Linked DNA regions of Homo sapiens: regions 1, 2 and 4 are each reported to be linked to region 3. The links are microRNA targets in miRTarBase. Many come from high-throughput screens and were not tested one by one. Region 3 holds a microRNA gene; each other region holds the end of a gene's coding sequence.

Region 1 (5,092 bases), not on the chromosome of region 3:
TCTGGGCTTAGACCCTGCTGTCTGAAGAGGGCCAGGAAGTGGCCACAGCTGAGCACCAGGAGGCCTCAAGTCCAGCAAGCCCCCCATGGGAGGAACAGCAGAGGGAACTCCTGGGTTGATTGGCGGGTGATCCTGCTCATCCTTAGGTTGCAGGATTGTTCCCCCCAGGTGGAGAGCTTGAGTCACATTTAGTTTATTTGTAGCGTCTTTTGGCAAAGACACTTAAGATGGACACAGTCTGTCTTGCTGAAACGTCCTTTTATTAAACACAACAACTTTTAGTTTCAGCGTTGTGGTAATGGAGATGCAGGAGAGTCTGTGTATAAACTGCAGTCTCCTTCATGGAAGCCTGAGCTTCACTCCTCTGTGCCATTGCCATCTTGAAACCTGGCTGTTAATATTGGCATTGCCACTTGTCAGTCAGACCTGAGGAAAACAGGTTCATGGGCCTGAGTCCTTAGCTTGTGTAAGAGGGAGTTAAAACAGATGTGTGCTAACCTTCTAGGTCTAAAGTGTATCTAGTCCTGGGTATAAAGCTTGTCCTGGGTATGATTTTCATCCAGTCTTTATACAAAAATACTCATTGAGTTCCTGCAGATAACTGTGCTGGGCTTAAGAGAAAAGAGATGTAACAGGGATAACTGTGCTGGGCTTAAGAGAAAAGAGATGTAACAGGGGTAACTGTGCTGGGCTTAAGAGAAAAGAGATGTAACAGGGGTAACTGTGCTGGGCTTAAGAGAAAAGAGATGTAACAGGGATAACTGTGCTGGGCTTAAGAGAAAAGAGATGTAACAGGGTCTCTTCGCTGAGCAGACCTGAGCCATTAAACAGATTGTTACCCAGTAGTTGAAATTCAGAATGGAAAATTGGTTTTAAGTAATGAACATACTTTATTTTTTTCTCCTCCTTTTAGATGGTGAAGAAAGCCAAGACTATGATGAAGAATGCTCAGAAGAAGATGAATCGGTTGGGGAAGAAAGGGGAGGCGGATAGACACGTGTTTGATATGAAGCCCAAGCACTTGCTGTCTGGGAAGAGGAAAGCTGGTAAAAAGGACAGGAGATAGTATCCGTTTGGTTGGCGTGGCTTCGCTAGAGTGTTGCTGTTTATTTCCTGGTTTGGCACAGTATGGTTTCATGAAATTGGAGCTCTGTATAAACTGAAAAAGACAAAATAAGTAAAGCACTTGTTGCTTTGCTGAAAACTATGGTTAACCCTATATAGGTGTGGGAAATTTTTGTCACTGCATAATATTACAAATATTTTGAGTAGACAGTGTTTCCACATTTAATGGAGTATCAGTTGCTTCAGATTTTCAGAACTGGGAAGATTTACTGGTTTAACTAGGTTGTTTTTGATGGAGAAAAACCTTATTTTCTTTTGTAAGAGCTGGGAGCAAACACGTTTATGAGTGTGTCGGAATCCCGTGCTTAAAATACGCTCTTAAATTATTTTCTAGTCTTATTTTACAATGTCTCATTGTAGTCTGTCTTCAACTATTTTATCCAAAATAAACCTCCAGAAGAAAGTAGTTTTCATTTACTTAGCTCATGTTTTGGTTTAGTTATAGTCGCTATGGATTTGGCCAAATAAAAAGGCAAACAACATGACATTTCTATTTTGTTTTAAAGCAAAAATACTTTTGGGGGAGTAAAATGTTGCTGGAGGCATTAGGCAATTAAATATGGGCATTCTCCTATTTCTGTGGCCCGTCCCTGAAGTTACATGTTCAGTAAAACACAAAAACACCGCCAATGCCACCTCAAAAGCACCTGCTGGGGAGCGTTGGGGTGAAGAGCTGTGGGGTCGGAGGGACCTGCCCAGGGGTCCGTGTGCTCCTGGAGCTCCAAAGACACACAGGGGTCCAAGAGCCACCACGGATAAGTTATCAAGTCACACAATCAACATTATAGCTGAGGAAAGGACTTTAGTTAATCACACTTCTGGATTACATGTGGCAATTTTAAAAATTTACCAGGGCTGGGCTGGGCGCAGGGGCTCAAGCCTGTAGTTCCAGCACTTTGGGAGGCCGAGGTGGGCAGATCAGGAGGTCAGGAGTTCGAGACCAGCCTGGCCAACATGGTGAAACCCCATCTCTACTAAAAATACAAAAATTAGCCATGCGTGGTGGTGGGCATCTGTAATCCTAGCTGCTCGGGAGGCTAAGGCAGGAGAATTGCTTGAGCCCAGAGGCGGAGGTTGCAGTGAGCCGAGATCGTGCCACTGCACTCCAGCCTGGGTGACAGAGAGAGACTCCGTGTGAAAAAAAAAAAAAAAATACCAGGTCTGGTTTTTGAAATTCTTTCTCCGTATTAAACACCAAAACTTAACATATAGTTTACTTTGTGTTAAACAACAACAGTATGGCCGGGCGCGGCAGCTCATGCCTGTAATCCCAGCACTTTGGGAGGCCGAGGCAGGCGGATCACGAGGTCAGGAGATCGAGACCATCCTGGCTAACACGGTGAAACCCCGTCTCTACTAAAAATACAAAAAATTAGCTGGGTGTGGTGGCGGGCGCCTGTAGTCCCAACTACTTGGGAGGCTGAGGCAGGAGAATGGCTTGAACCCGGGAGGCGGAGCTTGCAGTGAGCCAAGATCGCACCACTGCACTCCAGCCTGGTCGACAGCGAGACTCCATCTCAAAAAAAAAAAAAAAATACCAGGTCTGGTTTTTGAAATTCTTTCTCCGTATTAAACACCAAAACTTAACATATAGTTTACTTTGTGTTAAACAACAACAGTATGTTTTAAAGCAAGTATGTCTTTATTTGTAAGCATATTACTGAAACGATCAAATGAACAGAAGTGGATAAACGTCGAGTCACTTGGCTGAGACCATACGCATCTTCCGTACTGCTTGTATTAGGATGCAAGATTGAATGTGTCTTTTTTTTAAAAATGCAGCCTTGTGTTGCACTCTGAAATAAGTGATTTAAAAAGAAAAACATGATACAGAGATCCCATCCTGACCTTGGAGGCTTGGATAAAGCTGTGGGGAGACAGCCTCATGGTCCAGCCAGGCTAGTCCGCCTGCTTCAGGACTCTCAAGATCTCCCCAAGACTTTCAGGATCAGCTGCTGTTAATCAAACAAGTGCTTATAAAATGGAAATTGGGACAAAGGAAATGTTAAATTTCCTCCCTGCAACCAGGCAGATGAGAAATATGGAAATAAGGAAAAGGGAAAATGAAGATATGACAAAGTTGATGAAAAGGTTGAAATAGTGATTTATACATGATGGGCAATCAAGTGCCCCTTTTGCCCTGTTTTTTGGAGAGGGTGTATCATTGCCTCAATGGTGCGTCTGCCTGCACTGAGGGCATTACACATGGCTGACTCGACCTCCCTGCCTCTCACACTCTGTGTATTTTGTGAAGCTCCACAAACGGGGTCACGTCATCCAGGTGAGGCCACCACCGGTACAGAAACCTCTCGGCAATGGTTCTTAGCCAGGGGGTGACTTTGACTTCACCCCTCGCCTCCCTCTCCAGCAGCTCCCACAGCTCCTCCTGGGACAGGTAGAGGATGCTTTTCGTTTCACTGGGATCCGGGTTCAGAGTGACGTTTTTCCTCACAAGCAGAAGGTAACAAATTTCATGCTCTCCCCAAATTCTGTCTGATTTTGCCTTGTGGTGATAGATTGTCATGAACACAATGTCCTCTGGAGAAATCTATTGACAGAAATTGGTGCAGTGTTAACAACGCTAATGTAAAACACAGAATTTACAGAAAAATAGAGAAAATAAACACATTTGTTTTCCTCAGAAAATGAACACTTTCTTTGGTAATTGATAATTTCCAAAACCTCGATTTTAGCTAAGTAAATTTTTGTGGACTCAAGTCTGAATGATAAACCGGCTTTGGTTTCTTGGTTCCAGTAAACCTGTCTGTCTTCATTTAAAGAACTAACCGTGTCACACACACATCCTCAACAGAAAACCCCGTAGAAACCGGCTAGCGTTGTCAGGAGAACATCCATCCTCTCTTAAACGTGTTCTTGAGTGGATGAAGGTAACACATGCTCACAGGATCCTGGACATTCTTTCTACACTTGAATTTCTTTCTTTTTTTTTTTTTTGAGATGGAGTCTCGCTCTGTCGCCAGGCTGGAGTGCAGTGGCACAATCCCGGCTCACTGCAACCTCTGACTCCCAAGTAGCTGGGATTACAGGCGTGTGCCACTACGCCCAGCTAATTTTTGTACTTTTAATAGAGACGGGGTTTCACCATGTTGGCCAGGATGGTCTTGATTTCTTGACCTTGTGATCCGCCCGCCTCGGCCTCCCAAAGTGATGGGATTACAGGCGTGAGCCACCACGCCCGGCTTGAATTTCCTCTTCGGTGTGTGGTCGACAGATTCCTGCACAGTCTCAACCCTGCCTGGGACACATAGGGACTCACACTGCCCCATCCACAGCTACATTCACAGCCCCATTCACAGCCCCATTCACAGCTCATTCACAGCCCCATCCACAGCCCCATCCTTCATCCTCATGGTGCTTCATGAGGTCAATGGTGTAGATCCAGCCTGGACTTTGTTCACCGTCTGCCCGCTGCCAACCTGGACTCCCGTGGACACAGCTGAGACTGGATGCTGTGTGTACCTGCTCCCCAGGAATTCCCAGCTCTGCTTGCAGACGCCTCTGGGCTGCCCTCCTCACTCCGATGGCATCCTTTTCTTCCAGTTCTGCTGGGTTGTATAATGGGTGGCTACTACAGGAGTCGGTAAAATACCCTGGAAAAAATGCATGTGGGAACATCCCTCTTTATTCCTGAAAAGTGAATATATTAAATACAAATGCAGATGCTTCATGTAAAACCATCATCCGTCATCAGCAGAAGACAGCCTGGCGGGGGGAGTGGGTTTGTCATGGGCTCTCAGAGCAGCACTCGCCTCCAGCCTCCACGGCTGTGGGCTTGGTGAGGGTCTTCCACATGACCACCTGGCGGGGCTGGCCCTGACCGCTCCTGCGGCCCTTCCTGCAGATGTGCACACACATGTCCCGTGGCACTATCCCAGTATGTCTTAGGAGAGGGACTGGTTCCTACTCAGTTTTGTACCCACAGAGGACCTGAGATGCCATGGGGTGG
Region 2 (5,092 bases), not on the chromosome of region 3:
GAGGAAGCTCTTCATTGGAGGGTTGAGCTTTGAAACAACTGATGAGAGCCTGAGGAGCCATTTTGAGCAATGGGGAACGCTCACAGACTGTGTGGTAATGAGAGATCCAAACACCAAGCGCTCCAGGGGCTTTGGGTTTGTCACATATGCCACTGTGGAGGAGGTGGATGCAGCTATGAATACAACGCCACACAAGGTGGATGGAAGAGTTGTGGAACCAAAGAGAGCTGTCTCCAGAGAAGATTCTCAAAGACCAGGTGCCCACTTAACTGTGAAAAAGATATTTGTTGGTGGCATTAAAGAAGACACTGAAGAACATCACCTAAGAGATTATTTTGAACAGTATGGAAAAATTGAAGTAATTGAAATCATGACTGACCGAGGCAGTGGCAAGAAAAGGGGCTTTGCCTTTGTAACCTTTGACGACCATGACTCCGTGGATAAGATTGTCATTCAGAAATACCATACTGTGAAGGGCCACAACTGTGAAGTTAGAAAAGCCCTGCCAAAGCAAGAGATGGCTAGTGCTTCATCCAGCCAAAGAGGTCGAAGGGGTTCTGGAAACTTTGGTGGTGGTCGTGGAGATGGTTTCGGTGGGAATGACAACTTTGGTCGTGGAGGAAACTTCAGTGGTCGTGGTGGCTTTGGTGGCAGCTGTGGTGGTGGTGGATATGGTGGCAGTGGGGATGGCTATAATGGATTTGGTAATGATGGAAGCAATTTTGGAGGTGGTGGAAGCTACAATGATTTTGGCAATTACAACAATCAGTCTTCAAATTTTGGACCCATGAAGGGAGGAAATTTTGGAGGCAGAAGCTCTGGCCCCTATGGCGGTGGAGGCCAATACTTTGCAAAACCACAAAACCAAGGTGGCTATGGCGTTTCCAGCAGCAGCAGTAGCTATGGCAGTGGCAGAAGATTTTAATTAGGAAACAAAGCTTAGCAGGAGAGGAGAGCCAGAGAAGTGACAGGGAAGCTACAGGTTACAACAGATTTGTGAACTCAGCCAAGCACAGTGGTGGCAGGGCCTAGCTGCTACAAAGAAGACATGTTTTAGACAAATACTCATGTGTATGGGCAAAAAACTCGAGGACTGTATTTGTGACTAATTGTATAACAGGTTATTTTAGTTTCTGTTCTGTGGAAAGTGTAAAGCATTCCAACAAAGTGTTTTAATGTAGATTTTTTTTTTTGCACCCATGCTGTTGATTGCTAAATGTAATAGTCTGATTGTGACGCTGAATAAATGTCTCTAAAAAAAAAAAAGATCTTTGGTGGAATCCGTAGGCTGCTTTTTCATCTGGTGGCTGTGGCTCTCTGGTGTTTTGTCCTCAACAGCCACATCTAATATGAGCACTGGGAAGAAGACTCTTTCTAAGGCTGCTCAGCTTTAGAGTACATTTCTTGATGGTGTGAGCTTGGTGTCCTGTCTCAGAGTCACTAGTTTCCCAGCCCGAAACAGTTGTGTCTCAATGCCCTCCATCCTGCCTTTTCCACCCGGCCAATTACACACCATTCTAGGTCTGTTTTGTAGCACTCCACTTCCAAATACCAAATTGTCTATCAGTTTGGATTCTTAGTCGTAAGCAACAGAGATGGATTCTGGTTTTCAGCATAAGATAAATTGTATTAGAAGAATATTGTGCTGCTTGCAGAATGGCCAAAAGGACTAGAGAATCAGCATCAGTCTGAGCCACACGGCTGGGAATAAATCCTGGAACCATACTGCATAACTGGTCGGGTGAGGAGATTGTAGCCACTGTTGCCAAGCACTGACACACTGCTTTGTAACACTATCTGCTGCTTTGGGAATTTGATCTTGACACATGTGCTACTGCATCTGGAGAGGATACACTAAGGTCCTTCCTTGATTTGTTGTTGCTAACCAGTTACCAATTTTAAAGTATGTGCAAGTTCAGCTTAAGTTGTTTGGCATTTTCAGCTTTTATAGAGGGAGACTGGCTCAGTGGGAAGACTCAAGGAATTCCCCAGACATAAGAAGGAGCTGAATTCTAAGTAACCCAAAAGAAAGACCTACTTAAGGACAAATCCAGGTTTTGTGGGGCCAAAATTTACACAATTTGTTGGGGTTGTGGGAGTGGGGAGGGGATTTATTTAGGAAAAATACGTACAAAATTATATTAACAAATTAGATAGGGTTTGAAGGGGCTTTTGCAAATAAACACCCCTGAAGCTGTACTTTCCAAATCACTCCGCTAGATCTGATTTCAAGCCCACTCTGCTCAGCACAGGTTATCTCATGCTGGTTACCTCCTATATGTTCTTCAGGCTTTGGCTGAGACATTACTTACTCTGAGCTTTCAAAATCTTCTGACTGCTTTCACAGAACCCCTTTAATCTCTCCCATTTAGACATATATGACACTATAATAACTGCCTGTTGATATGCGTGATTCCAACACTAGATTATTAAGCACCAAGATTGCAGTCATTTTAGTATCCCCAGTCCCTCGCATATCTATACATAGGAGGGATTCAATATTTATTAAGTGAGAAAACTACATATTCTCCTTGCCTTTTTTTTCTTTCTTTTTTGAGACAGGGTCTCGCTCTGTTGCCCAGGTTGGAGTGCAGTGGCATGATAACAGCTCACTGAACCTCGACCTGGGCTCAAGCAATCCTCCCACCTCAGCCTCAGTACACTCAGTGGACTACAGGCATGCACCACCACATCTGGCTAATGTATTTTGTAGAGAAAGTGTTTTACCATATTGCCCAGGCTGGTCTCGAGCTCCTGGGCTCAAGGGATGCTCCTGCTTTGGCATCCCAAAGTGATGGGATTACAAGTGTGAGCTACTGCGCCTGGCCTCCTTGTGCTCATGTTCTTATGTTGCTTACCACCATCCATATGCTGATGACTATCAATTCTTATCTATAGCTCTAAATGTGTTTTAAAAAAATAGCTTTAGGCCGGGCGCGGTGGCTCACGTCTGTAATCCCAGCACTTTGGGAGGCCAAGGCGGGCGGATCATGAGGTCAGGAGATCGAGACCATCCTGGTTAACAAGGTGAAACCCCATCTCTACTAAAAATACAAAAAATTAGCTGGGTGTGGTGGCGGGTGCCTATAGTCCCAGCTACTCAGGAGGCTGAGGCAGGAGAATGGTGTGAACCCGGGAGGCAGAGCTTACAGTGAGCCGAGATCACGCCATTGTACTCCAGCCTGGGCAACAGAGCAAGACTCCATCTCAAAAAATAAAATAAAATAAAATAGCTTTATAGGGCTATAGTTGACATAAAGCAAACCATGCACATTATTTAAAGTGTACAGTTTGAAGTGTTACATATGTATACACTCGTAAAATCATCACCATAATCAAGATAGTGAACATACCTATTACCCCAATGTTTCCTCATGCCCCTTTTATTCTTGAAATTCCACCCTGCTCTCCAGCCCCCACCCCCACCCAGTAAACCACTGATTGTCATACAGATGAGTTTTAAAATTTTTCAGGATTTTATATAAATGGAATCATACAAAATGTACTATTTTTGTCTGATTTTTTTCACTTAGCATAATTTTGAGATTCATCCATGTTATAGTGTGTAGCAATACTTCATTCCTTTTATTGCTGAGCAGTATTCCATTGTATGGCTATACTGGCTATACTGCTGTTGTTTTTTGTTTGTTTTGAGATGGAGTCTCGCTCTGTCGCTCAGGCTGGAGTGCAGTGGTGTGATCCTGGCTCACTGCAACCTCCACCTCCTGCATTCAAATGGTTCTCCTGCCTCAGCCTCCTGAGTAGCTGGGAATATAGGTGCGTGCCACATTTTTTTGTATTTTTAGACGAGACAGGGTTGGCCAGGCTAGTCTCAAACTCCTGATCTCAGGTGATCCACCCGCCTCCGCCTCCCAAAGTGTGGGATTACAGTCATGAGTCACTGCACCTGGCCAGCTGTACTACTGTTTATCCATTCACCTATTGATGTACATTTGGGTTGTTTCCAGTTTTCAACTGTTAACCATTAAAACTGCTATAAACAGACACAGACATTTTGTACAAACATTGCATGAACATGTTATTTCATATCTCTTGGGTGCTAATTGTGTAGCAGTGGTCTAAGTCATTTTATGGTTGTGCCTTTTTACATTCCTACCAGTGGTGTATGAGTCTTCCAGTTGCTCTACATCCTTGCCAACATGGTCAGTCTTTCTCCTTTTAGCCGTTTAAATGGGTGTGTAGTGGCATATGGTTGTGGTTTTAATTTCTATTTCCCTATTGACTTACAGTTTCTGAGTTTTGAGACATCTTCATATATTCTGGATGCAAGCTCTTCATCAGAGATGTGATTGCAAATATTTTCATAGTGTAGAATCTTTTAAATTTTGGTGAAGTCTAATTTACAAATTTCTTCTTTTATGGATCATGCTTTTGGTGTGCTAAGAAATCTTTGTCTAACCCAAGATCACAAAGATTTTCTTTCCTCTAGAAGTTTTATAGGAGTTGTAGCCCCATAATCCATTTTGAGTGAATTGTTGTACATGGTGCAAAGATACACACTGAAACTCACTTTTTGGCACATGTATATCCAGTCTGTTTTAAAGTCTCTCCTTTTCAACTGTTTTTTCTCCACTGAATTACCTTTGGACCTTTGTTAAAAATCAGCTGTCTACATATGGTATGGGTCTATTTATGGATTCTCTGTTCCATTAATCTGTCTATTTTTGTGCCAATACCACAAGGTTGACAGGTCTTGAGATGAAGTAATGTTATCTCTCCAACTTTGTTATTTTTCAAAGCTGATTTGGCTATTGTAAGTCCTTTGCATTTTCATTTGAATTTTTCCCCCATTTGAATTTTAGAATCAGTTTGTCAACTTCTAAAAGGGAAAAGCTCTGGGATTTTTTTTTTTTTTTTTTTTTTTTTTTTTTTTTTTTTTTTTTTTGAGACGGAGTCTTGCTCTGTCGCCCAGGCTGGAGTGCATTGGTGCAGTCTCGGCTCACTGCAAGCTCCTCCTCCCGGGTTCACGCCATTCTCCTGCCTCAGCCTCCCAAGTAGCAGGGACCACAGGTGCCTGCCATGACGCCTGGCTAATTTTCTTGTATTTTTAGTAGACACAGGGTTTGATTGT
Region 3 (5,092 bases):
CCGTGAGCTCTTGCATAGTAGGGAACTTTAGATCCGCTCAGAGACCTGCCTTATTTCTGTTTCAGCATCAGATCTGCCTGTTGTATAGTAATCTAGGACTTTTCTAGAAAGGTCCTGGGGTGCGAACGGACCTCAGCGTGGGCCAGGCCAGACTTGACAAGGCTCCCTCCCCAAGTTCGGCGGAGTCCCCGAGATCCCCACTCACCCCTCCCCAGCCTCTGTTTGCTTTGCTTCCCCCAAGAAGTGATGTCTGGCATGGAAACCACTGCTTCTAAAAGAATCCAGTACACGAGGGGTTAACGAAATGGCAGGAAACCCAGGCTGTCACCGCACATTTGAACTGAGTCATTTGTAGAGTTTAAAGCATTTCACTACTTTTATGTCCTGCCTTTTGTTTTTGTATACTTCTAATAACAGTTTAAAAAGTCAGGGGCAGGAAAGGTAAATGTAAGTTCCAAGTTCCATCCTTTGTTCAGATGTGATCTTTGGGCCCTTAGGTGCTCTGTGCAGGAGGGGAGGTGAGCGCGGCCAGGTCTTGGGGGGTGGTGGGCGTGGTCTCGCCCTGCCCGGGCCGCGGAGTGAGTCACCGGGGCTGGGGGGGGAGGGAGGGAGGGAGAATGGAGCAGCGCTGGGTCCGCTGCCGCCGGACGCTCTACACAGTTCCAGTTCTCCAAAACTGGCCGCGTAGAATGGCGCCTGGGGACTCGCCTCGCCTGTGGGCTGGCCCCCAGGGTGTGGCCACATCCCTTTTTCTGGGCCTTTCCCTTCAGGGCTCGGCTGAGGCGGTACCAGACACAGCCGGGGCCTCTCCTGTTGCTTTTTGCCAAGTTGGAAATCAGTTTTGTTCCCCGTACAAAACGCATCCACGCTGTCTGTCTCGGTCATCTCCAGTGCTGCACCTTGGCCCAGGAGCATGGTTGACTCAGAAAACCGAGAGCATTGTGAGAGGAAAGACGAGGCAGGGAGAGAGCGAGCTGGGGAGGCCCCTGTTCCTGCTGGGTGCTCCCCACTGACTCTCTCTCTCTGAACAAGCCAACCATTTTTGAACATAAGTCAAAGCGATATTTTCCAGAATGTCTCATACACATAATGGGCTACAATTGTTCACCTCCACTGAACAGTTTCAAAATATACGTGGCATGTAATTATTTTCTCAAAAAGGGTAATCTTATCGACCTGCGTGATTTAATTATATTTAGTTATGTATGTCTTGTCCCTCATAATTAATTGGTAGAAACCTAGGTAATGGCATTTCATAGTGCCATCGTGTCATTGTCATTATTTTATTTATTCGTGTTGCCAGGACAGACTTTAGTCAAATCAGATGTGTGTGTCTTTTTTAACTCTCATTGTGACTTGCATTGTAATATTTTCCATGTACACATTTATTTTTTTTTTTGGAAAGAAAATCATTGCTTTTAAGCAGGATGGAAAGTTTGATTCATTCCATAGAAATCTGGCTGCTGCCTGTGGTCTTTCACATCCATGGGGAGCATGTCTGGGGGCCAGGAGGCCATGCTGACAGAGACCCTCAGGTTCTCTCTGGCATGGAGGTGAGAGCCAGAGTTGAGCTCAGTCCTGCAGCTGCGCCGTGCTCCTCCTTGATCACGGTTAAATTCCTCCGTTTCTGGTCTTTTCTCTTTTTCTCCTTTCAGTTTCCTATCCTGTGTTAATTCCTCTGTAAAGCGTCTGGCCAGACTTAATGGGAATTCCTTCATAATGCGCCCTTGGGACTTGGAGAAGGCGTAGAAGGAGGGAGGGTGGTGTCTGTAATTCTTGGCTCTGTTCCCAACTACTGCATGCAGTGACATCTAAACTCAGTTCCTGCTTATTCAGTCCTGTACTAAGGATGTCTTTTTATTTTCTCTTGTCTGGTGCTTTGACATCTGGAGCCTTGCTGCCTCCGGAGGGACAGGCCCTCCCAGGGCTAGATAATTCCTAGAGATAGCAAACAGCATTGCTGCAGCATGCCTTACGTGTGCAAGCCACCCAATCCAACGTCCACACCCTCGGCCCCCTCTGTGTTTCATCCACTGTGCACCTGCTCTCATCACCCCAGGTCCAGCCACCAAGCAGCTAGGGACAGCCCTTTGTCCCAGGGTCCACCGAGGTTATTCAAACTAATGGATTCTAAACCTGCTTACCCCGCCTCTCCTGTTCTTTCCCATGGAAGGCACAGAAAAGACTCTCCCTCCTCTCACCAAGGTCTCTGCCTCCTAGGACGCTGGTCTCCCCTATGTTCCCCCTCCCACAGCGGTAGGTGTGGCGAGCTCCTTCTCTGGAGGACTCTGAGTAACAAATCCTCTTTTCAATGGCAGTCCTCTCCTGACCTGTCAGCCCCATAGTGCTTGAATAATAATAGAACTTAAATTGTAAAACATCCCTGGAGCTACTGCCCTCCCTTAGGTCCCATGAGAAAGGGGAATGAAAGTTGGCTGCAGTTAAGGTGGCTAATCAGCTGATGGTGCCACCTTAACTGCAGCCAATTCTAATTCCCCTTTCTCTTGGAAAAAGATGGGGAGATTATTCTGGAGTGAATTGTGGGCCCAGTGTAATCACAAGTCTGTAAAAGTGGAAGAAAAGCGGGCAGAGAGATCCGATATGAATACTACTTAATTTGCCATTGTTGGCTTTGAAAGTGGAGGACCTAGAGTCAAGGAGTGTGGGCGGCCTCTAGGAGCTGGAAAAGGCAAGGAAACATTCTCTCCCGCCGCCCTGCCGAAACCATCGTTTTGACCCAGTAAGATCCATGTCAGATTGACCTCCAGAATTGTGAAATGACAGATTTGTTTAGCCGGTGCAGTGGCACAAGCCTGTAGTCCCAGGTCCTCAGGAGGCTGAGGCAGGAGGATCACTTGAGACCAGGAGACTGGGGTTGCACTGGGCTGTGATTATGCTACTGCACTCCAGCCTGGGCAAGACCCCATCTCTATAAAATGAAATAAATAAAATAAAACTCCCCAAATTTGTGTTACTTCAAGCCACCAAGTTGTCATAATTTGTTGCCGCAGCGGGAAGCTAATACATGTGTTCATTGCAGAGTTTAACAAACAGATACCATGTTTATTTTTTTGTTTGTTTTGCATCCTCATTTTACAGATGATTAAAAAAAAAAAACACTTTTTAGAGGCCAGGTCTTGCTGTGTTGCCAGGCTGGTCTTGAACTTCTGGGCCTCACACAGTCCTGCCTCAGCCTCCCAAGTAGCTGGAAATACAGGCTCTATCTGCCATGCCTGGCAGAAACCACCTTCTTAACTACAGCTTTTTGTGTGTTAATATTGATTAAGATGATTTCCGTTAAAAAATGGCTGTAGGCCAGGTGTGGTGGCTCACATCTGTAATCCCAGCACTTTGGGAGGCCAAGGTGGGTGGATTGCTTGAGCTCAGGAGTTGGATACCAGCCTGGAAAACATGGCAAAACCTCATCCCTACAAAAAATACGAAAAATTAGCTGGGCATGGTGGTGCATGCCTGTAGTCCCAGCTGCTTGCGGGGCTGAGATTGTTTGAGCACAGAAGGTTAAGAGTGCTGTGAGACGTGATTATGATTGCACTACTGCACTCCAGCCCAGGTGACAGAGTGAGACTCTATCTCAAAAAAAAAAAAAAAAAAAAAAAAAAAAAAAAAAAAAAAAAGGCTGTAGCTGTTTGAATTAGCTAGGAATATATGGAATAGCTCCAAATTGCTTAGTGGGATCATGAAGACCCCGTGACCCGCAAAGATCATGATACGGTGGAAAAAAGGTGCTTTTTAAAATTGTTGTTCAAATACTTAGTGATAAAACTTCACGTATTTCTCTAGCACCATATACTTGCCTGAATTTTTATGAATTTGTATGGTACCATTCTTAGCTAGCTCTGTGAAGAGCTTATAAATTCTTCATTGTTCCTGTGAGGAAATGGGAGCCCAGAGAGGGAGGTTTCAGTCCAAAAGGGGCAGAGCCTGGGAGCAGAACAGGTGGCCCTGGGGCTCTGGGGTCCCAAGAGATGTTACTCAGGGCCACTGGCTGAGTGCCTGCGCGTGCTGCTCAGTCAGAGCCTCCTGTGTCCCTTTGATCTTTGATGTGTGTGGATGAGATCAAGTTGTTTAAATATTTCTGGCTTTTGAGAAAGTGTCTAACACCAGATAGTTATCCTGATAAAAGCCAATACCCAGAATTTAACAAGGATAGCTGACAAAGATGCTCTATGGATGCTTTTTAGAAAAATGTATATGTTATTGATCCTTTTTAGTGTAGCTGGTTCATTACAGCCACAGTCTTCAGATGTTTTTGATCTCACACCTCTATCAGTAAAAAGTGGGCATGTGCACCCAAAGTGGGGGTGTGTGTATTTATTTATAAATTACCGGCATGTAATGCATAAATATCTTATATCTATTGAAACATACAAAATATAAATGAAAATAAAATAAACCACAATTACAAACAAAGGTGGTAGTGTTTTTCTGCACTCCTGTGATGGTGTATGTTTTTGTGTGTGGGCATCACTTTAGGCACCACTACCCAGAACATCTTCCAGGAGCTTTATGTTGTGATGTCATTTTAGATCACTGAAGGAACATTGCACGTGTCAGGCACGTGTCCGGCACATGTCAGGCTAGGTGATTCTCATGCTGTCTCTTTTATCCAGGGATGTTTAGGAAGGCTTGAAGAACGCTCAGCAGTGTGGGACCACCACCATGGTCTACCCTCATGCCCAGGGGTGGCCCTTCTGCGCTGAGCATGTCAGTTCTGAAGGTTGAGGCATGAGGGGTGGGGCGCTCTGACTCCTCCACTTCCTGGAAGTGGACCACGTGCTAACTTGGGGCTTGTCACTGTCACACTGAGCAGCTGAGCTGTGCTCCACTGGCACACACAGCCTTATAACCTTAAGCGTGTTCTATCTTGTGCTTTACTTTTAAAAAATTGTTTTATTATGGTGAAATATACATAACATAAAATTAGCCATTTAACCCTTTTAAGTGTGCAGTTCCGTGGAATTCAATACCTTCACATTGTTGTGAGCATCACCGCCGCCCTCCTCTCCAACACTTTTTATCCTCCCAAACGGAAACTTTGTGCCCGTGAAACACTAACTCCCCCTTCCCCCAT
Region 4 (5,092 bases), not on the chromosome of region 3:
ATCGCCTTTGCTACGGGGGTGCTGTACGGACTCTCTGCTCTGGGCAAAAAGTGCGTCTGCCAGGCCCAGCCCCTGGGCAGGGCCTTCCTCCCTCCGCCCCCCGAAGTCCTTCAGTGAGGAGGATCTGAGAGTGGCCCCTTTTAGCTAGTGGAGACCGAGGCAGAGGTCCCAGTAACTCATTGGTGCCTCCAGGGCTCAGCTCGAGTGGGTGAAGACAGAGGACTTACAACACTTCTGCGTGGCCCAGTCTTGCCCCGTCACGGCCTGCAGCAAGGATAGCAAAAACATGGCTGGTGGGAGCCCCTTCCCCTCCCAGGTCTGCACCGGGCATTGTACTCAGTTGCCACCCTCTCTCCTGCAGAGCCCAGACTGAGGCTGGTTCCTTCGCAGCCCAGCATCCCAGGGAGCCTGGGCCATTCTCAGAGGGGACAAGACAGGCCTTTGCCACCCCAGCAGTTGTCTCTGGGGAAATCAGAATGCCTGCAGGTCACACCTGGGTCACAGGGCAGGAACCGGGCAGTGGTCAGGAGGGCTGTGGGCATGGGGCTGGTGCTCCACGTGACGCTGCCTCTCTCTCTCCCCAGGGGCGATGCGATCTCCTATGCCAGGATCCAGCAGCAGAGGCAGCAGGCGGATGAGGAGAAGCTCGCGGAGACCCTGGAGGGGGAGCTGTGAAGGGCTGGGCGCCCCTCCCTCCCTGTCCCCTCTTCTGGCTCTGTGTGGGTCCAAGTGAGGCCTGGACTGTCCACGCTGAGGCACAGCCTGGAGAGGGGCCTTTGCACGTGTCCCTACACCTGGAGTCCTCTGCTCCTTTCTCCAGACTGGCTTAAGCCAGGAGCCACTGGCTGCTGGTGTGAGGGTCTGGGCTGCTGGACTTGAGGCAGAGCCTGCAGCAGCTGTGTGGACACTACCCAGCCCTACTCCTCTGCTGGGTGGGTCTGCAGATCTCACACCACAGACAGGGCTGCCTGTGACCTGCTGTGACCTGGGAGCAGCTTCCCCTGGAGATGCTGGTCCTGGCTTGAGGGGAGGGGCAAGTGGGACCCTGCCACCTGGGCACTGAGCAGAGGGACCTCCCCCAGCTCTCTTAGCAGGTGGAGCCCCAGGGCCTGGGACAGCCTGCCGCTGCCAGCAACCTCCCACTGCTGCCTAGGGTGCAGCGCCCACTGTCACCCTGCCTTCTGAAGAAGCCCACAGGGCTCCTAAGGTGCACCCCGGTACCTGGAACTGCAGCCTTGGCAGTGACTGGACAGCTGGGTGGGGGATGCTCCCTGCTGGCCCTGGGAACCTTGGACAGGCCACCTCAAGGCCCCTCGGCTGCCCCTCCTCCCTGGGCCTGCTGGGGCCCCTAGGTTCTGCCCATCACCCCCCGCCCCTGCTGGCCTTGGTGCTAAGGAAGTGGGGAGAGCAGGCTCTCCCTGGCACCGAGGGTGCCCACCCTCTCCCTGGTGTGGCCCCGTCAACATCAGCCACAGCCCAGCCCCATTAGTGGGTTAGTGGGTCTGACCTCAGCCCCACTCAGGTGCTCCTGCTGGCCTGCCCAAGCCCTGCCCTCAGGGAGCTTCTGCCTTTTAAGAACTGGGCAGAGGCCACAGTCACCTCCCCACACAGAGCTGTCCCCACTGCCCTGGGTGCCAGGCTGTCCGGAGCCAGGCCTACCCAGGGAGGATGCAGAGAGCTGGTGCCCAGGATGTGCACCCCCATATTCCCTCTGCCCTGTGGCCTCAGCCCGCTGGCCTCTCTGACCGTGAGGCTGGCTCTCAGCCATCGGGCAGGTGCCTGGTCGGGCCTGGCTTAGCCCAGGTGGGGTTTGGCAGAAGCGGGCGGGTGTGGAAGATATTCCATCTGGGGCCAACCCCAGGCTGGGCCTGCGCTGAGCTTCTGGAGCGCAGGTACTGGGTCTTGCTAAGTGAACTGTTTCCCAGGAACACCTCTCGGGCCCATCTGCGTCTGAGGCTGGGAGTGGCATCTGAGGCCGGGAGTGGCATCTGAGGCCAGGAGTGGCAGGCTGGTGGGCTGGGCGTGGGGTTTTCTGGGCCCTGCCCAGTACTGCCCTGGGGACTTGGTGGGCTCCTGGGTCAGCAGCATCCCACCCCTGGGAGTCTGGCCAGCTGAGCCCCAGGGTGGCAGGGGCATTATAGCCTGGTGGACATGTGCCTTCAGGGTTCCTCCGGGGCCACCTTCCTCAGGCCAGTGCTGGGTTCAAAGGGCTGTGTGTGTGTGTGTGTGTGTGTGTGTGTGTGTGTGTATGTATATGTGTGTGGGTGCACACATCTGTCCCATGTATGCAGTGAGACCTGTCTACCTCCCACAAGGAGCAAGGGCTCTGCCCGCCCTCTGCTCATTCCTACCCAGGTAGTGGGACCCCGGGCCCCCTTCTGCCTGGCTTGCCTGCTTCTGCCCTTTCCAGAGGGGTCTCACTGACAGCCAGAGACAGCAGGAGAAGGGTTGGCTGTGGATCAAGGAAGGCTGCCCCTGTACCCTGTGGGGAAATGGTGGGTGCATGGCTGGATGCAGAGGTGGAAGGCCCTGGGCCACAGGCGAGAGTGGGCGTGTCACCTGTCCCAGGTTCCCAGCAAGTCTGCAGCTGTGCAGTCCTGGGGTCCCTGACCCTGTCGCCCAGGGGGCGTGCTGTCCAGCAGGGGCCCTGCCTTGCAAGGAACGTCTCTTCCGGCGGCTGGGCCGCTCCTGCCTGGTCTGGGCTGTGTGTGGCGCCCTTTCCTCCTTGTTTGTTCCTCTGTGTTCTGTGTGCGTCTTAAGCAATAAAGCGTGGCCGTGGCTCGCGTGCCTGCCCTCTGCTCCCTTCTGCCTTGGTGCCTGTGTGTGAGTGTGGAAGCCAGGCAGGAGCCGCTGGCCCAGGAAATAACTACAGGTCCTGTCCCGAGGCTGCCCCCAGCATCCCAGACAAGGAAAGTGACCTGCCCAAGGTCACACAGCTAGAAAGAGCCTGTTAAGGGTGGGCCTCGCAGTGGGCTTCCCCTCACTGCAGCCTTTTCCCTGCCCTGCTTTTGCTATGGATCAGCAGTCAGTGGCCCTGGCAACCTTGGCTGGTTCGGGTCTAGCCTGGCTGCTGTGGGGGCTCCTGGAGTAGACCCCACTCTTTCCTCGCTAGGACTACAGGTCCAGTTCCTTTATTTTTACAAAAGGGTGAACACAGTTTGCAGATAGGAGCTGCCTGTTCCCAGAGGTTGGGCTGGGGCAGGAGGAAGTGGCCACGCCAGGTCCTTTGCCCTGGCTTTTTTTTTTTTTTTTTTGGCAGGGGGTGGGGACGGAGTTTCACTCTCGTTGCCCAGGCTGGAGTGCAATGGCATGATCTCAGCTCATTGCAGCCTCCACCTCCCGGGTTCAAGCAATGCTGCCTCAGCCTCCCAAGTAGCTGGAACTACGGGTGTGTGCCACCACACCCAGCTTTTTTGTATTTTTTAGTAGAGACGGGGTTTCACCATGTTGGCCAGGCTGGTCTTGAACTCCTGGCCTTGGGTAATCCACCTGCTTTGGCCTCCCAAAGTGCTGGGATTACAGGCGTGAGCCACTGTGCCCGGCCTGCCCTGGCTTTTTAAGTCCAGGATGTTCCCTGTGGTGCCCATAAGACTTGTGAGGGCAAAGCCGGGTCTTCCTTGCACAGCCAGATGCCACCAGATCAGAGCGCGATGATATGACTACGTTACTTGGCTGCCTCCAGCCCTGTCCTCTCAGTCCTCCCCGTAGCCTTCTGTGGGGCGTGTCCTTCACGCAAGGGAAAGGGACTAGGCCTGAGGTCACCCAGCAGGGCCGTGTCCCTGGATGCAGGGTTGTATGCACTCCTGCGGCCCATGGCTACGTGCAGCACTGTGGGCTGCCTGGGCTGGGGCTGTGGCTGGACAGCAGTGCTACCTGTCCCGAGCCAGGGGCACCCGCTGCTGAGGCCCCATCACACTGCTCTTCCTGTGCTCTGGCTGGTGGCAGGGATGACTGCTGCCTCTTGGTCCCAGGGTGCAGGTTTGTAGCCAACACAGAGGCCCAGCCACTGGGGGTTTGGCCCCCTCCAGGCGGGGACCTTGACCTAGCGCAAGAAGGACCTTCTCCCCGTGCGGAAGAAGGACTCGATCTGCTCCAGGGACCGTCCCTTGGTCTCGGGCACACAGCAGCCTGTGAACACCAGGCTCACCAAGCAGATGGCCGCGAAGAAGAAGAAAGGCACCTGGAGGCCGAAGGTGCTCTGCGGGTGAAGAGCGGGGCCGGGTCACAGGGAGAAGCTCCAGGGTCCTCCTGCCCCAGAGGAGCTCGTGGGCGCTGCTGGTAGTGACCAGCCCTGTGGGGCCTTCATCTGGTCCTTCCTGTGTTCAGAGACCGCCCCCCCACACCAGGGCTCCCCCACTGTCCCCAGGACAAATCCGAAGTAGCCCTTGAAGTCTGCATCCCGTCTGCCCCTCGGCCTTCCTCAGGGGCTGGGCCCTCTGGCGTCAGCTCAGGTACCCCCTCCACACCCCCTACCCAGCGCTGGCATCCCAGCTGTTCCATGCCGCGGCCTGCAGGAGGCCCGCCCTGCAGCCTGGTGGGCACGCAGGTTCTTCTTGGACCCTCTAGGCTGATGGACTCACTCTGGGTTGCCTGCCCTCCCCCAACCCCCCTGCCCTGACCACTGCAGGGACAGCTTAGGCGCTGGCCTAGGCTGCCCTAGCCAGCTTCTCCCTCATGGGAACTTACTCTGGGCCTCACAGATTCTGGCTGGTCACAGGGCCCGTAGTTTTGAACCAGGAGGCAGGGGGAGTGGGTGGGGTTGAGGGGGGAGTGTGGCTGCTGCTGAGACCCAGCGCCCAGGAGGGCGGGAGATGAGGCACGGTGGGGAGGTGGCTTCCGGGGCCCCTGGCAGGGTCCTGGGCCATGTCCTGCCCTGGCCCAGGAGGTAACCTGACTTCCCAGAACAGTTGCCTACGCCCGTTCCTGTTTCTTATAATGAAGAGCGTTTGCTAGGCTATCACGTGACCACTCTGGGGTCTCTGAGTTCAGGGGGTGTGTGCTCATCTCCTAGGGTCACTGAGAGTTAGGGTCCTGACAGCAGGCCTTGGCACAGCCCCTGGCACTGAGAAGGGTCCTGGCCAGTCAGAGAGGG

The links. The annotated mature microRNA hsa-miR-4715-3p reads GUGCCACCUUAACUGCAGCCAAU and lies in region 3 at 2,465-2,487, shown strand. An mRNA with a match to its seed (bases 2 to 7 or 8) in the 3' UTR can be bound and repressed. Matches are read on the target gene's strand: a 7mer-m8 pairs with bases 2 to 8, a 7mer-A1 pairs with bases 2 to 7 and ends in A, and an 8mer does both.
Region 1: miRTarBase lists GTPBP4 as a target of hsa-miR-4715-3p. Seed matches in the 3' UTR shown: 7mer-A1 at 1,955-1,961.
Region 2: the mRNA of HNRNPA1L2 is a reported target of hsa-miR-4715-3p. Seed matches in the 3' UTR shown: 7mer-m8 at 1,018-1,024.
Region 4: miRTarBase lists SLC2A6 as a target of hsa-miR-4715-3p. Seed matches in the 3' UTR shown: 7mer-m8 at 3,631-3,637 and 7mer-m8 at 3,394-3,400.

Annotation. Positions count from the first base shown.
Region 1 is chr10:1,016,162-1,021,253 of GRCh38, forward strand. It overlaps GTPBP4 (GTP binding protein 4), which reads left to right. Exons shown (of 17, transcript NM_012341.3): 17 at 914-3,771. The coding sequence ends at 1,066. It overlaps IDI2 (isopentenyl-diphosphate delta isomerase 2), which reads right to left. Exons shown (of 5, transcript NM_033261.3): 4 at 4,606-4,736; 5 at 2,749-3,673. The coding sequence ends at 3,356. Among named protein-coding and RNA genes, the nearest start is that of IDI2-AS1, 3.9 kb to the right of the region's middle.
Region 2 is chr13:52,642,531-52,647,622 of GRCh38, forward strand. It overlaps HNRNPA1L2 (heterogeneous nuclear ribonucleoprotein A1 like 2), which reads left to right. Exons shown (of 1, transcript NM_001389320.1): 1 at 1-1,243. The coding sequence ends at 925. Among named protein-coding and RNA genes, the nearest start is that of HNRNPA1L2, 2.6 kb to the left of the region's middle.
Region 3 is chr15:25,846,153-25,851,244 of GRCh38, reverse strand. MIR4715 (microRNA 4715) reads left to right here and starts at 2,420; the gene lies at 2,420-2,498. The region is part of intron 1 of ATP10A (ATPase phospholipid transporting 10A (putative)); the gene reads left to right. RefSeq lists a silencer at 472-521 and enhancers at 802-861, 912-961.
Region 4 is chr9:133,467,979-133,473,070 of GRCh38, forward strand. SLC2A6 (solute carrier family 2 member 6) reads right to left here. Exons shown (of 10, transcript NM_017585.4): 10 at 3,116-4,198. The coding sequence ends at 4,043. CACFD1 (calcium channel flower domain containing 1) reads left to right here. Exons shown (of 5, transcript NM_017586.5): 4 at 1-50; 5 at 585-2,870. The coding sequence ends at 675. LOC124902295 (a long non-coding RNA gene) reads right to left here and starts at 589. Exons shown (of 2, transcript XR_007061831.1): 1 at 494-589; 2 at 1-264. RefSeq lists enhancers at 627-786, 867-916, 987-1,036 and a silencer at 1,497-1,616.